Regions from separate parts of the Homo sapiens genome. Here all the other regions are linked to region 1. Evidence: fine-mapped expression QTL. A gene starts in region 1. Each other region holds a variant in brackets. All regions are shown on one strand. Distances are from middle to middle.

Region 1 (5,000 bases):
CTAATCTGAAGTCCTGCATCTGAGGCAAAGTTGAGGCAGGGCTCGAGGGTGGGCGGAAGGGCCCAGGCCCGGAGGCCACTGACCCTTCTCACCTTGCCCAACTGCTCAGTGGAGAAACCGCAGCCCAGCGAGGCCGCCCCAACTCCTCCGTGTCCTCTTTTCTACTCTATCCTACCCTCCCTTCCCTGCCCCACCCGAGACGGTCAGGACCCTGGTGTCTGGACTTCCCGCTTTGTGTCACTCTCTAGGGTACTTGACCAAATCCTCCGTTAGACCCTCTCTTCCCGCCTCTCCCCACCACAGCAAACCAACAAAGCTTAACCCCATCATCCCCTAACCCAATAGTACCTCTGTAGGGCTGGGGCTGGGGCTGGGCTGGCGGCCTTCAGAGGGGGTCTCGGGGGGAGGCATGGTGGGCTCCTGGGGCCGGGCGGGGTCCTGCTGGGGCCTCGGAGATCGGGCGGGTGCAGGCTCCATGGACCCCAGCTTAGTTTCGATTCTCGGTTTAGATCTTGGAGTGCGTGAAGAGAAGCTGAAGGGGAGGCGTGAGCCAGTTGGCTGAGTCCCTTGAGCTGTCCGAAAGGGGAGGTGCCGGCTCAGGGCCCGCCTCTGGAGAGGAAGTGAGACAGAAGCTGGGGGCGGTTCTAGGGGGCAGAGAGGCCGACTGTGGGTTTTAAAGACACGCCCAGAGCGGGGAGGAGGTAGAGGCGGAGAGCTGCAGACCTACCGCTGACTTACGGTAAAGCGGGAGAGGTAGGGCAGAGCTGCAGGGGGGCAGCCCTGCTCCCGGCTTTGATCCATTCATCCGTTCACACTGGCACTGCTTCGTGCCACGTCCTGCCGGGAGCTGGGCGTACAAAGATGAGCCACACGCAGCCCCTGCTTTCTAAGAGCCGTAGATGTAATGGAAGAGCAAGCCTGCAAACGGAGACATTCTGGAAAGGAGAGCCCACAGCTGGGACCTGCAAAAGCAGTGGAAATTCACCAGGGATTTAGGGTTGTAGGTGGTGGGGTACGGGGGACACTTGAAACAGAAAAGATAGCTCTTGCAAAAGCCTGTTTGGGAACTAATTTTGGCCATTTTCAGATTTAAGAGGGAATTCATGAGAAATGATACCCAAGGAGTGTGCTAGGACAAGATCCTAGCTGAGGAGATTGAACCAGTTCTGTGAGTGATGGGAAGTTGCTGAAGGATTTGGAACCAGGGAACAACACGATCAGCTGTGCATGATGGGACAGTCACTCTGACAACCTAGGAGCAGGTGCCCTGGTCTAGGACAGTGGCTGTGGGATGCAGAGGAGGGACTTGATTCAGAGATCCTGGGAAGCCAGTGACTGGAGGTGAGGGAGCAGGATGATGCCTTGAGTGACAGCTGGAAAGGCTGGTGGATCTGAGGTGGTGGGGGCAGGAGGGAGGGGGAGAGCTGGAGAGCGGGTATGAAGAGGGTGAGGGGAGAGCCAGCTAGGTCTTCGCCAATGGAAAAGCATGTCAGACTCCCAGCTGGTAAGGGGAAAGGGGCACAGTTCCAGGTGACCTCACTGGGTCAGCGCCCCGGCTTCAAACTTAAACCATCGCAACCACTGTGCTGGCTCCTGTGTACCCATTCCGTACTCTGTTCCAACTTAGAAACAGACTAGAAAGGATGATGATAGGGCCTGGCTCTTGTAAACCTTACAGTCTGCAGGGTGGAGAGCAGGGGTTGGGCAGATACGCAACTTCCTAGGGACTGTAAGGCCTCAGGAGCCTGCCCTTCCCTCCAGCCTGGTCAGTACTCCCAGGCCTTTAGAGAATCAGTCCATGAAAGCCAAATATGGTGGGCAGCCATCTGCACAAGGGACCTGGAAGTGGGCTATGGCAGGATGGGGCTTCGGAGGCCAGAGGCGATTGGCTGAGGAGGCAGAGCTGGGGAAGCTTTATTCATTTCTTTGCTTGCTTTGGAAGATAGCCTGCTCCCAGACTACCCCAAAGTCCTGTTGGAAGTTAACACTTCTCAAAGGAAATTCACGAGTTGCATTCAGGTTTTCTCAAGCCCTGGAGAGGCAAGTTAATTCCAGGTACCTGGATCAAGGGGCATGCTCTTTCTGGACCTGCAGGACTGAGGGCCTCACCTCTGTGGTGCTCTGGGGCCCCTGCCCTCATGTAGCTCTGTGCTATCCCCTTCTTCCTTACACTCCCATGCTCCCCGAAGTCTGCATGTGAAACTTCTTTCTTTTTGTGCCAAAGTTCAGGCCTTCCTACTCCACCTTGATCACGGTGACCTGGCCAGGCCATTACTTAACAAATAAGTATTGAGACCTGCCCTATGCCAGTCCCTGCTTGCTGGGCTGTGGGTTCACAAAGAGGAATAATTTGCAGACTATGTCCCAGAGAAACCCAAAGTCCAGATATGGCATGTCCTGCCTCCAGTGTGAGAGAAGGAGTGCTGAGAAGGCTGATATAGCATGTCCTTGATCCTGGAGAAGATTGGCTTCCTGTAAACCCTGATGAGATCTTGCTCTCTCGCTCCGACTGCAGTGCAGTGGCACGATCATAGCTCACTGCAGCCTCAAACTCCTGGACTCAAGAGATCCTCCCGCCTCAGCCTCCCAAGTGGCTGGGACCACAGGCAGGCATCCCACGCCAGGCTAATTTTTAAAAATTTTTTGTAGAGATGGGCTCTCACTATGTTGCTCAGGATGGTCCTGAATTCCTGGCCTCAAGCGATCCTCCTGCCTGAGTCTCCCAAATTGATGGATTATAGGAGTGAGCCACCGTGCCCAGCTTCCCCTCCAGCTTTTCTAGGGCTGAGTAGGAGAAGAGGGGAGGAGGCGATGACCCCAGCGGGGTCCGAGGAACGCCGATCACACCCAGTAGCCCTGGGCTGCAGTTCGGTCCTCCCAGCGCAGGGGGAGCCATGCGACGGCGGAAGCGGGCCCCGGCCGGCCTCCTCTTCCTGCGCCCGCGCCGCCGCGGGTGGCCGCGCGGGTGAAGCCGGAAGCAGCAGCCAGGAGGGCGGGGCCGCGTAGGGCCCACTGGCCAGGGAGGGCGCCGCGCGGAGGCGCGGGGCGTGTCTCCTGTCAAAAGCCATGCTCGGCAGGTCTGGGTACCGGGCGCTGCCCCTGGGTGATTTTGACCGCTTCCAGCAGTCGAGCTTCGGCTTTCTGGGCTCGCAGAAGGGCTGCTTGTCCCCGGAGCGGGGCGGCGTGGGGACAGGGGCCGGTGAGTGGCCGCCTGGCACGGCGGAGCCGGGGGGGACCGGCCGGCAACCCCCAGGCCCGAATCTCTGCCTCCGAGGAGTCGGCCGGCCCGGTGCCGTCGCACCCTACGAGGGGGGACTGAGAAAGGGATACGATGTGGAGAGGGGGCTGGACCCGGCGCCTGGTGCTAGCGCCGATCCGCCCTCCCTAGGGTCATGGGGCTTTGGCCCCAGAGCCAGCCAGCGTTGCTCCTATCTTCCAAAACCTCACCTCACCACATTTGTCCTCGGCTCTTATCAGCCCTTTAGGCCTGGGAAGACGTTTCAGGTTTCTATTTCGCATAGAAGAAACCGAGGTCTAGGCAGAGGAGGCCACCAGCACCCTAAAGGCACCTGCTGCAGGGAAATGGAAGAATTTTCGCCCTAGGGGGCACCTCTAGAAGCCCGGGAACTAGGCATCTCCTGGATGTGCAGGCCAAAATGACAGGTCCTCAGCTGCCTGTTGGATCTGCCCTGCTTCTGTCTTGCCCTCAAAGTCTTCTGTGGCTCCTTTGGCCTACAGGCCAGATCCCACGCTGTTCAGCCTAACCGCCTAACCTTGGATTTGATCCCTCCCTGGCCTTCCTGTCCTGAAAGCTCTCCCTATCCAGAAGTCTCTTGAGAGGCCTGGTGGATCAGAGCCAGGCACAAAGTGGAGCCTCAGTGCTCTGGGGCTTAGCCCAGAGGGCAGGGCTTCCTGGAAGAATGGAGCAGGGCTCCCGACTGCTTCCTGTCCAGGGTTGGGAGGAAAGCGGCAAATAACCTCATCCCAGATTCTGGAGCTGTCTCGGCTTTGCTCCCAACTTGGGCTCCTGAATCTCCAGGGGCCAGGACATTTGGCTTGGATAAGCCTCATCTTTCTAGCCCTGCCCCTGACCCCGACCCCTAACAATTTTCTTGAATTGAAATAGGCAGGGTTTTTTTTTGTTTTTGTTTTTTGTTGTTTGTTGTTTTTTTGAGATGGAGTCTCGCTCTGTCCCCCAGGCTGGAGTGCAGTGGCGCCATCTCGTGAAATAGGCATTTTTTAATGGTCATTAAGGCATTAAAGTTGGGTGTGGAATAGAAAATAATAATCTAATTCCTCATCTGTGGCTCCCGTTGATAAGCTATTTATGATTTATCCCTGTAGGCTAAGGCATCATCTTCATAAGGACTCCTGGAAAGCACACTTCTGGGGCTGATGGTATAGGAGGAATGTGTTTTGCCAGCAGTATTCAGTGCATGTTTACAGATGCCCAGGTGCTCCTGGCTCCATGCCAGGTATGGGTAGGCAATATAAATTAAACGAGAGGATTGACCCCTACTCAGTCCAGTGAGGAGAGCATCATCACGCGGACTGGATTCTGAGATTGAATGGCTGTTGCCTAGCAGAGAATAAGGCCTTGTGAGGGTTGTTGGACTTGGGACAAATGAGTGTTGATGTATGGGAGGAGGGAACAGACCCTAACTTGCAGCTGCCCAAAGATACGGGAATATTAGGCAAGGAGCCAGATTGAGAGCCCTGAGAAGGAAGGAGCCTCTCGAGGGGAAGGTGGGCGTAAGGTACACTTGCCCAAGTTCACTCCGCTTGGCAGCTGTCGTGCAGGTCCAGTTGACCACCTCTGCTCTCACCTGCAGATGTACCCCAGAGCTGGCCCTCCTGCCTCTGTCATGGCCTCATCAGTTTCCTGGGGTTCTTGCTGCTGTTGGTCACCTTCCCCATTTCTGGCTGGTTTGCCCTGAAGGTAAGGCTGGCTGGGTCAGCCCCCAGGGTGGTTGGGCCACACTGAGAGCTTTGGCATTGAT
Region 2 (5,328 bases), 87 kb after region 1:
CTGGCTAGGTTGGAGAGGGCTGCAGGGAGGACCGCAGTCAGCAGAGGGCGCCAAAGCCTCTCAACACAAGCATGGCCCAGGCCTGGCCCAGAAGGAGAGCGCTGAGAGCCAGGACTGGCGGGCTACGTGCGCCCTGTGGATTCCCCCATTTCCCATGCTTCATCCAGCCATGGGCCTGCAGTGCACTCACAAATGTGCATATACCCTCCTGTGTGTGTGTTACACTCATCAAATTGTCTCTGAATTTGCTTGGCTTCATGTGTTCCTGTGTGTGTTTATGTGTGTGTGTGGTGTGTCTGGTGTATCTGGTTCCCCAGGAAGCACATTTGACAGCCCCACAGTCAGGGTCAGGGCACAGGGACAGATACTGTGTCTATAACAATCCATAACACTGATTTTGTTCATCTCAATAAATGTGAGAATGAAATAAAAATTAATGTAGAATATTTTGTACATCTCAATAAAGCCACTTTCTGGGGGCAGGCATTATAATTCTAGCCTCTGTTCTACTGTTTGATAGGTAAAGAATAACTTTCCACATAGGGAGAGGAATGGACAGCTACCCAGCCCTCCCACTGTTACAGGCCTGGGCTAGAAGCTTTCCATCTAGGCTCCTGGTTGACCGTACTAGCAGTCCTGTGAGCCAGGCAATAGTAGTCCCATTGTACAGATGAAGACAGTGAGGCTCAGGGAAGTTAGAAAACAATTTCACGTCTATACCCCAACAAATTGAGACTATACAGTAAGTGTGTTACACTTGAAAAAAATCTTTCTTAAAAGTAAAAGAGAAAGAAAACAGCTTTGGAACTTTTTAGGGGTAAGAGATTACAAAATGTGGGAATGGAACATGTGAGTGAGGATGGATGGAAGAGGCCATCAGCAGAGGACCCAAGGGGTTGAGAAGCAAGTTCTTATTCAGCTTGCAAGTGACAGAAGCCCAACTCACATTAGCCTGAGCAAAAATGAGAATTTATTGGAAAGATCTTAGAGCATCTCCCAGAATCTAAGTAAGAGCTCAATAATTGAGCCAGCAGAGGATCACACAGCTAGGAAGTGGTCAAGCTAAGATTTGGTTCCTGTCTCTCCAATTTCAAAGTCTATGCCCGTTTCACACTTTCTAAAGCTGCCCTCTCAAATTTGTGTTTTCCTTCCATGCAGACCCCACCAAAGATGAACTTGAGAGCAGCCCGGTGAAGTATCAGGAGCAGCAGCTGCTCATGGCTAGAACAACTGAGCTGAGAAATTCATGTTGACAGACAGTTTGTGGCTGATTTCTACGAGTCAAAGAATAAGGAACTATATTTAGCTGCTTGCTCTGGGCTAGTTAGCTGGTGGGGAGTGAGGGCTCAGACTGGGGGAAAAAAAGAGGAGGAGGAGCAGGAGGAGGAAGAGGAAGAAGAGGAAGAGGAGGAGAAGGAGGAGGAGGAAATGAGAGAGAAAGAGAGATGCCCAGTTGTCTGCTGTCTGGCCTGGGGTCCTTACCCTCAGAGTTGGGTCTCTGCAGCAAGCTTTGCATGGAATTGTGGTTGGTGGGGCCTCTTTATAAAGTTAAGACCTGCCCATATTACTAGGCTGGTGGGACAGAGAACAAGAGCCTGAAGAGGTGAATCTTCCAGGCTTGCAGATCTCTTCTCTACACACATGACATCGGTGAATGAGTCATTCTACACTTGGGGGTTCTGGAGCTCTGTAAACCAACACTCAGCACAACTCAGATCCAAAAAATAGTACTCAGCACTGCACATACATTCTTGATGGCATAGGGGTTAGCTTTGTCCCTTTGATTGACTTGACCTCAGTCTTCTCCTCCTCCTGGGTCAGGAAAGCCCTTTTCTTCCTCTCAAGGGAAAATCGAGGCACTTGCCCTGGATGGACTTGGGCTTGGATTTCCCAAACAAGCTGCTTCCCAGAGGAAGAGAGAGGCAAGAACCTGCCTCCTCCTCCCACAGATATCTGAGCTCTGCCAGGCCTGCCTTCCTCCTCCGTGTACCTTGTCCTCTCCACATGTAACCAGTGGGGCTGGTCCCTCATCCTTCTTTCCAAACTGCCACCACCCTCTCCACTCCAGATTCCATTCACTCAAAGACATCAGGGAGCAAGGTTGAGTATACTGACAATTTGGGTGGGAAGATTCAGAAGATGGTCTCATACCCCACGGAGACACATGAAATCCTTCTTCCATAGTTCTCTCCAGCCTCTCCCCGACCTCCTCCCACATACGTCTCCCACTTCCCTAGCCCCTCCTGTCCCTAATTTGCCTACCCAGCTCCTTCAAGATGGCAGCACAAAGGGTCACCTGTGACCAGAACTCAGCTTCCTGGGAAGGCAGTGGAGAGTATAAATTTATGGAGACAAAACTTTTCTCTATTTAGAAGTAGCACAACAAACTTTCTGGGACTCTTGAGTGTGAGCAGCTTAGAAAAACGGGACATGAAACTGAAGCCCAGCAGACATGCCCATCCCATCCACCCTGCTGGTGACCAGGAGCCAGTCCCTTGCTGAGAGCCTGGGTTTCCTTGACCGACACCGAGTGATACCTGAGTTCTCCCAATGTTCAGGCAGGAGCTCTTTGTTCCAGACTGTGCTGTCTTGATGGGGAGGCACAATGATCCCTGGGACAGA[G/A]GCCAGGGAAGGGCCCTGGAATTCCCAGCTTGGTCCTATGCTGCTCAGTTGACTCTCCCAAACCTCCAAGCCAACTGATTCTGCTCTGCCCCTTTAGGGAGGCTCCCAGCTGGGCCCTGGAGCAAATGCTGTAAACCCACAAATCTGCTCAGGGTTTTATCCCACCTGGGGGCCACAGATTGGTGGGAGAATGGGAGGTGAATAAAGGCAGTGGTGGCTCTTTAAAGAAAAAAAATGCCCTGGTTTGTAGCAGTTGCCAATTTCCATGGTGTAAATACTCCCACCACAGCCAATTTCAAGCTATCAACATGATGTCACTGAATGCAGAATTAAGAAAAGGTGTGAAAATTTCTTTTTTTTCCAGCAAGCTGACTTCAGCACACCACTGGACAAGGTAAAGTGCCTGAATCCGGGGACTCTAATCTAAAGGTTGTACTGAATTCAGCCAGGTAGAGCCAAGAAACAGACTGCTGAGTCGGCACATCCCTTTCTCAGGTTGATTTAAGAAGGGAGAATAACTCAAGGGAGCATTATGAGGGAATTTCAGAAACAATCAGATCATTTAGCAATTGAATTGTCTAAATATTTTTTCCTAATTTAAAGTTGCGTGTCATGTGAGTAATTGGACAATGCATTATTGAATTACTGAGGGATTTAATGCCTAAATTGGAGAAGCAATCAAACATTCACATCTTCAAGTAGTTGATGGACACCTAAGGAGGTATTCACATGATGGCTGGGGCTAGAGGGCGTGGGAGGCCTTGTCCTAAGTGGGCCCTGAGCCTCTCTTGCAAGCTGCCTCATGCACCGTGGGCCCCAGCTAGGCCTGGGCTGCACCCTCCTGGGCCCCCTCTGCTGCTACGGTCTTTGTTTGTCACTCTCCAGTTTGTGTTTTTGTCGCTAAATTCTTCTATTTTTGCCCTTGGCTTCCTCCACTCTGTCATTTCTTCCCAGTCTCAAGCTGTCTCTCGCTCTCTGTTTCTGCCTCTGTCTCTATTTGCTGTCTCACTCTGTCTTCCTCCCTCCATCTGTGTGTTTTGTTTTGTCTGTGTCTCCATGTCTCTCTTACTCTTCTCTCCGTGTCTCTTCCTTGCTGTCTCTCTCCATTTCTTTTGGAGTCTCTCTCTTTTCTACACACACATCCCTGGCCTTTGTCCCCCAGTCCCATGAGCTCCTCTCGTCCCTCCTTTGGTTTCCACTTCACCCAGCTGCACTCTGACCCCTGGCTCCACATCTATCTTGGCACCATGCTGCCAGTCAACACCCCTTCCCCCAAGCTGATTCTGCCCTGCCTCAGACCTGGGACCTGTACTATGAACCCATAGACATACTCAGGATTATGGCACATGGCGGGAGGGGAGGCCATGGTCACTCTTTGAAGAAAATGAAACCCCTGATTTGTAGCAATTGCCAATTTCTGTGGTGTAAATACTCTTGCCATAGCCGATTTCAGACAACCCGCATAATGCCACTGAATGCAGAATTGGAAGAGGTGCACAAGTTTCATTCTTTTGAGCCAGTGCAAGCTGACTTCAGCACACCACTAGGCAAGAAGGGGCTTCCTGCATGCCTGCGGGGGCTGGGGAGAGTGCACACATGGCTGGCTACAGAGCAGCCCACTGTAGCCTTATAGAGCTCGACTTTGGGCCAACAGCCCACTCCAACCTGGTTAGTTCTTCCTTGTGGCTGACTCATAGAAGTGCTCACCTTAGGATGGGGCAGGAAGCCCAAGGACTCACTGACCTCTAGACTTAGAAGGAAGACTTCCTAGATGAAATGCCTGGGCTAAGTCACAAAGCAGATGAGAAATTTTGTGTTGCCAGAGTATATATATATATATTTTTTTGAGACGGAGTCTCGCTCTGTTGCCCAGGCTGGAGTGCAGTGGCGTGATCTCAGCTCACTGCAACCTCCACCTCCCAGGTTCAAGTGATTCTCCTGCTTCAGCCTCTTGTGTAGCTAGGACTACAGGCATACACCACCACACCCAGCTAACTTTTTTTATTTTTAGTAGAGAAGGGGTTTCACCATGTTGGCCAGGCCAGTCTCGAACTCCTCACCTCAAGCCCCTCGGCCTCCCAAAGTGCTGGGATTACAGGCAAGAGCCACCGTGCCCAGCCCAGAATATACATTTGAGGCTGGAAAAGGTAAGAGTTGGTGTCAAAGAGGCAGACCGAGGGCAGGATCACTGAGGTCTTGAATACTGAGTGAAGGGGCCTGGTCTTTTCTTATTGGCATTGAGGAGAGTACCATGATTGAATATGTTGCCTTAGGTTGGTTCCCTGCCCCCACTAAACAGGCCTTCTGACAAGGATTTGGGTGTAGTTGTTTGTTTGGAAGATGATCCCAGGCAGCATGTGAGGGAGTAGGGAAGTGAGACAGGGAAGAGAAAAAGGTAGATAAGAGTTACCCAGCAGCTACTGCTGTGGAACACTGAGGTTCAGCCCCCTGTGGACCCTCTGAGTGTACAGAACAGGTCTCAGACTTGTCCCATTGAGGGGTGGGAAATCTGGGGTGTGTATCCACCAGCTCCCCGCCCTTCCTTCAAGGGCTGCTCCTGGGGTGTGAATCCCCCTGATATTCCATGTGGGCCAGTTTTGGTCCAAGGCCAGATAGTTCTCTCATGAAGAGATGCAGAAGCCGGAGGCATGGGTGCCAGGACAGGAGGCGGCAGCAGCCTGTTATGGTAAGGACTGAGTGGTGTCC
Region 3 (5,328 bases), 280 kb before region 1:
CTAGCATCCTGCATTTTTCATTTGCCAGTAAAACCTAAGCAGATCCAAAGTCACAGAAAGCTCATTACCCATGACTTGAGTAACTTCAGGATATGAAGTTCATGTCCAAGTGCCCTGATTTCTTCCTTCCCATTTTTCCCTGTAATAACACTGCATTGAACGTTCTCTGCTACATATCTTCATGTCGCAAATTACTTCCTTAGTACAACTACCTAAAATGGAATTGCTGGGTTATAGGACATGTGTATTTTAGGACACCTCATTCATTATTGGTAAACTGTTTTCCTAAAGTGTTGTATCTGTGTTCACACCCATGGCTGGTGGTGTCACAGATGCCAAGTTAGACATGACCTCTGTCTGTGTCACCAGCCCCTCTCTTTCCCACACAGTTTCCCCAGCCCCTTGCAGAGGCCAAGACATCTCTGCAGACTACAGAGGCTCCGTGTGCCCGCAGTGTGGGCCAGTGGGCACTCGGGGGACTTGATGGCACCCTAGGTCAGCAGTTAGGGCACACACATGGGTATGATTTAAACAATGAAACAAGACAGTATTAACTGTAGCACTGCCCAATAAGAGAGCTATATGAAATATTCCCATGGGTGGTCAGAAAAGCCTCCTTAAAGGAAGCAGAACCAGAGAAAGGCTCTGAAGGAAGGTCTGGCTGGGTGAAGAGAGGGATAAAGGTCTTCAGGATGGGAAAACAGCACAATCAAAAATGTGGAGTGGCACTGAGCACACCCTGTGCAGAGGACGCCTGAAATGAGGAGAGACTCCAGGGGGAGGCCCAGCATCTGCCAAGGCCAGAAGGTGGGAGATGGGAGATGGCCATCGGCCCATAACTCCCAGCAGGCAGCCCTGCAGGGTCCCAGCACAGGGCGGGGCTGCGGGTCGTTGCTACAGACCCACCAAGTGGCTGCCTTGCCTCTGTTCCCCAGCCAGGGGCTGTCAGCAACAGTAGCAGCCGCTCCCACCTCCTGCTCCCCCACAGGAATCAGTCATTGCTCGAAAAGGTCAGCACAAATGCACTGCGGCTCCAGGAGTTATTGATGCAGGATCATGAAATATCAGTGTAGGTCCACTTCCCCACAGTGGCAGGGTGCTGATGACGGTCACACTAATGGGCCTGGTTTGTCCAGGCCCAGCCCAAGGCTCAGCTGTGTCTGCCCCTGCCCCTGGGGAGATGGGTTGCAGTCACTGCAGGGCTAGGGTGCCCTGGACACCTGAACAGAGACTGCAATGATGGGAACATCCCACTTCTTATGGGAGCTTGGCCAACAGGTCCGGTGAGAGAAGTTGGTTCTGACTTCTGTGGGGCTTGGGAGTGATCTTTCAAGATTGATCCCCAAACCATGTCCCTCCCAGAGTCACCCCATTCTCCTGGGTGCAGGAGGGTCCACATGGCTGGGACTGTCTGCCAGGCATTGGGGCACCTGTGACTCAGTCCCCTGCCGTCCATACCTTGCTCCTACCCTGGAAGAGGGTTATTTAGTAGACGCTAGCTGCCCTTTCTGGGACCTATTCATGTGTCTAAATGGAGCCTATGAAGCCAGAGGTGGTGAGTGGCTGCCGGCCCAATAAGGAACAGCCCTTTCCCTGAGTAGTTTCCCAGGGCAAGTCACTTAGGAAAGATCACTTCAGACCTAGGACTGGGGAGGGAGGGTCAGCCTGTCTTGTGCATGTGCAGGCAGGAGTGGTGGGAACTCAAAGTTAGAAGACCTGCAGTCTGACGCCAGAGCCCTGGTGAGGGTACTGTGGCTGATGTGTGTGCAGGATGGGGGCGGGGAGAGGCAGGCATCGCCTGCAGATGCTAATGGAAGGGCCACAGCGGTAGTGGAATTATGGAATGTCATTAACCCTCAGCTGTGATCTTCAGAAAAGCCATTAACCCCCAGCCATGGAGGCAGACCTGCTTCCCCTGGGGACAGAGCCTTCATTCCATGGCCCCTCCACGCCCACCGCCTTATTTCCCCTGGGCCCACCCACATCCACCTCTGCCTGCTCTGCCCAGGCATAGTGGCCGCCATCTGGAGGAGTAGCTGCTGGGAGCAGATGCTGGGCTGGGGTCTCTAGGGATCTAGGACCCCTTGGCTCTGGGTCTGGGTCTGCCTCAACCTTGCTGTGTGGCCTTCAAGTCCCTTCTCCTCTTTGGGACCTACTTTTCCCATCATCCCATGGGGATATGCCTCAAACTCCTCACTTTGAAAGCCTGTTGTAAGGTTAAAGGAGACAATGGATGTTTTGCTATTAAGATGTAAGTTCAACTTCACTGAACTCAGCAAATGTTGACTCTGGGGGGCTTCTCCATTCCAGATGCCTGTGGGGTGCTGTAGAGCCAGACTCTGCCCCCGACCCTGTAGCCCACCATCATCCAGGAGGATAGGGGACAGACAGACAGACAGACAGACA[GACAC/C]ACACACACAAACATGTAGAGTCCTAAGCAAGCTGTGGTTGTGGGAGCTGGGGTGTGCGAGGAGAAAGCCATGACTTCTGACCCCATTCCTCAGGGAGGACCTGAAGGACAAGGGCAGTAGGTAAGGAAGAGGAAGGCCATTCCAGACTGCGAGTGCAGCAGAGGTGGAGGCTGGAGGTGGGAAGGGGCAGTGTGGGTGTGGAGAACAGCAAGCTGTCCAGTGGGGCTGCAGAATGCCTGTATGAGCTGGAGCCATAAGCCAGGAGGCTGGAGGGCACAGGGCCTGTGGACCTGGCTGAGAGTGGGATTTGCCTTGTCGTGATAGTAACAGGGGGCCCAGGGGAAGGGCTAGGCAGGGGATGCCCTGGCTGCTCCTCAGAGAATGGATGGCAGGGGCCTGAGGGGAGGCTAGCACTAGGGCAGGGTCTGTGGGGATGGAAGGGGCCCCAGGAGAGCTTGGGGACAGGCCAGCTGTGGGGCTGAGAGAGGAGGGGATGGTGGTGGGCACACATGGCTTCCCGGAGCTCCACTCCAGCTCTGTAGGAGACCAGAACAACAGGAGCAGCCTGTTGGGCAATGGGCCCCTTCCAAGGTGCCGGGGTAGGAGTAACTTACACGGCCCACCCTATGTTGGTTCCAGCAGGCTGGACCAGGTGAAGTCCGACAGGCCATCTACCCCTTAACTCACCAGTTCAGCCTTTGCCATCATCACCAGGCTCCACTGAGGGCCACCTAGCCCACCACCATGCCCCTCCTTGCCTCATCACCAGCAGATGGCCCTTGGGTTCGGGTGGCTCCGCCTCCATAACCTTCCACATTTATACCAGCAAGGCAGAGCCACACCCCTCCTTAGTGATTGGCTCAGGGAAGTGCATGTAACCCAATCCTGGCTAATCAGACAGGAAGGAGGTCTGCTGAGGGATGGCTGGGTAAGGTTGGTTTCCAGTTGCTCTTTAAAACCACCTACAAGAAGAGAGGGTGCTGCTGGGTGCGGTGCCTCAGGCCTGTAATTCCAGCACTTTGGGAGGCCAAGGTGGGCGTATCGCCAGAGGTCGGGAGTTCAAGATCAGCCTGGTTAACATGGTTGAACCCTATCTCTACTAAATATACAAAATTAGCTGGGCATGGTGGCGCTCGCCTGTAATCCCAGATACTCGGGAGGCTGAGGCAGGAGAATTGCTTGAACCCAGGAGGCAGAGGTTGCAGTGTGAGCCAGGATTGCGCCACTGCACTCCAGCCTGGGGGACAGAGACTTGGTCGCAAAAAAAAAAAGAGAGGCTGCCTCTTATCTGCTGGTCTTTCATTCTATTTGGATGAAGTGCCCCCATGAGCCGTTAGCCAGCTGAAGATGGTAATTCGGGGTGTTGGAAAGATCCTGAGACCTCGAGGATGCTTCTGAGCCTGAGCATCCACCAATTCTGGCAGCATTCTATGTCGTGAGTTGATGTGGTGTGTGACAATAAATATCCTTAGTATTTAAGCCGATCCAAGTTGGGGTTTCTGTTACTTGGAGCCAGATGTGAAAAGGGCAGTGGTGAGGCTGGCCTCAGAGGGGACACTGGCACTAGGGGAGGTACAGCTCTGTTAAGAGTGGAACCCATTTACCTTGGACCCTGGGCCTGGACACTTTGCAAAGATTATCCTTTGAGTTCTCCTAACAGATTGGAATCAATGAGTCTGGAGAAAGGAGCAGCTTACCAAAGGTCATGCAGCCAGTAAGTTACAGAGCTGGGGTCAAACCCAGGTCAAACAGTGCTTTTGCACAGTGACAGTTGGTGAGAAATCACAGCCCCCCAAGATGTCAGAGAGGGCAGGCCCTAAAATTACCAAGTCCAATCCCACCCCCTCAAGTGTAGAGATGAGGGGACTGACGCTCAAAGGGAACAGGGCAGGGGTCTGTGTGAAGACTGAGCTCACGCTGCTGACTGGTGCCCCTCCAGGTATGGCTCTGCCCGGGCAATCCCCACCCCTCCTTACCACAGCAGCCTGCTCCTGTTCTCTCACTGCTGCACCTGGGCACCTCTGTGCCAGCTGCCAGCAAATTCCCAACCTGGCCCAGCTGCCATGGGGTTGGGTGATGTTCAACAGGTGTCCTGCCATTGCTGGACCGGGTCCCACACATGCAAAAGGCACTGGGAACAAGTCTCTGTAGTGAGTGGCACCTCTCCTACCCAGACTAGTTAGGCAGCAAAGGCAGCCAGAGAAAGCCTGGGGGTGGGAGGGGGCACACTCATTAAAGCAGGCAGTGCCTCTTGCCCCTTGGGACAGCCTGCTGATTGGTTCTTAATTTTCTGGGCAAATGCAGGGCCATGTGTGAGGTAACTCTAGGGAAATCAGGCAAAGGATTGGTTTGGGTTTGAAGCCTCTGTCCCCAGGGTCCCCCTTTGTCCCACTCCTCCCCACCACCATCACTCTACCCCATGTCTGAGCCTTCTTCAAATGTCTTTGCCTTTAAATGAAGCCTGGGCTCCAAAGGGGTGTCTTGTTCTATTTTTGCTATGCCAGACATAAGCACTGGTGGGCAGACAATAGGAGGGACCTCCAAAAATCCCTCTGTCCCCCAAGGCCCCTAGGAATGTTGGGACCATCGTGTAGGGCAAGCTGGCAGTGAAGCGCAGATCATGAGAAGAGACCAATCTGGCTATTCCCCTGAACCCAGCCATGTTCTGTGCGTGCACCCGCCCCCAACCTCATACTCAAACACACAGCCCTCCTGTCTGCCCTGACATGGGTCATAGCCTGCCTGTCTCCACCTCACACTTGTGCTATTGCTGTGTCCAACCTGTACCAACCCTTCCTCTGTTAAAAATTCAAGACTGCCGGCTGAGTGCAGTGGCTCATGCCTGTAATTCCAGCACTTTGGGAGGCCGAGGTGGACAGGTCACAAGGTCAGGAGTTTGAGACCAGCCTGGCCAACA

Direction of the effects. Alleles are on the strand shown, and positions count from the first base shown. SD is a standard deviation of normalised expression in the study named. Not every link is listed here.
As copies of C replace GACAC in region 3, the expression in subcutaneous fat of the gene that starts at base 2,995 in region 1 goes up (large effect, 1.5 SD a copy in FUSION).

What was found. PIP is the estimated chance that this variant, and not a neighbour inherited with it, causes the effect.
Region 2: its variant is the best candidate, but not a certain one, in a credible set for the expression of STOML1 in whole blood (Lepik 2017, PIP 0.56).
Region 3: its variant is the best candidate, but not a certain one, in a credible set for the expression of STOML1 in subcutaneous fat (FUSION, PIP 0.74).

What each region holds. Positions count from the first base shown.
Region 1 is chr15:73,990,290-73,995,289 of GRCh38, reverse strand. It overlaps STOML1 (stomatin like 1), which reads left to right and starts at 2,995. Exons shown (of 7, transcript NM_004809.5): 1 at 2,995-3,199; 2 at 4,833-4,939. The coding sequence starts at 3,067. It overlaps PML (PML nuclear body scaffold), which reads right to left and starts at 574. Exons shown (of 9, transcript NM_033238.3): 1 at 349-574. The coding sequence starts at 477. RefSeq lists enhancers at 1-161, 3,459-3,528, 3,589-3,718 and a silencer at 2,769-3,328.
Region 2 is chr15:73,903,188-73,908,515 of GRCh38, reverse strand. It overlaps a transcript of TBC1D21 not described here. Among named protein-coding and RNA genes, the nearest start is that of LOXL1, 21 kb to the left of the region's middle. RefSeq lists a silencer at 13-132. The variant G/A (reference allele first, on the strand shown) is at 2,623.
Region 3 is chr15:74,274,033-74,279,360 of GRCh38, reverse strand. All of the region lies in intron 7 of CCDC33 (coiled-coil domain containing 33), which reads right to left. Among named protein-coding and RNA genes, the nearest start is that of CCDC33, 40 kb to the right of the region's middle. RefSeq lists enhancers at 1,219-1,943, 1,944-2,668. The variant GACAC/C (reference allele first, on the strand shown) is at 2,407.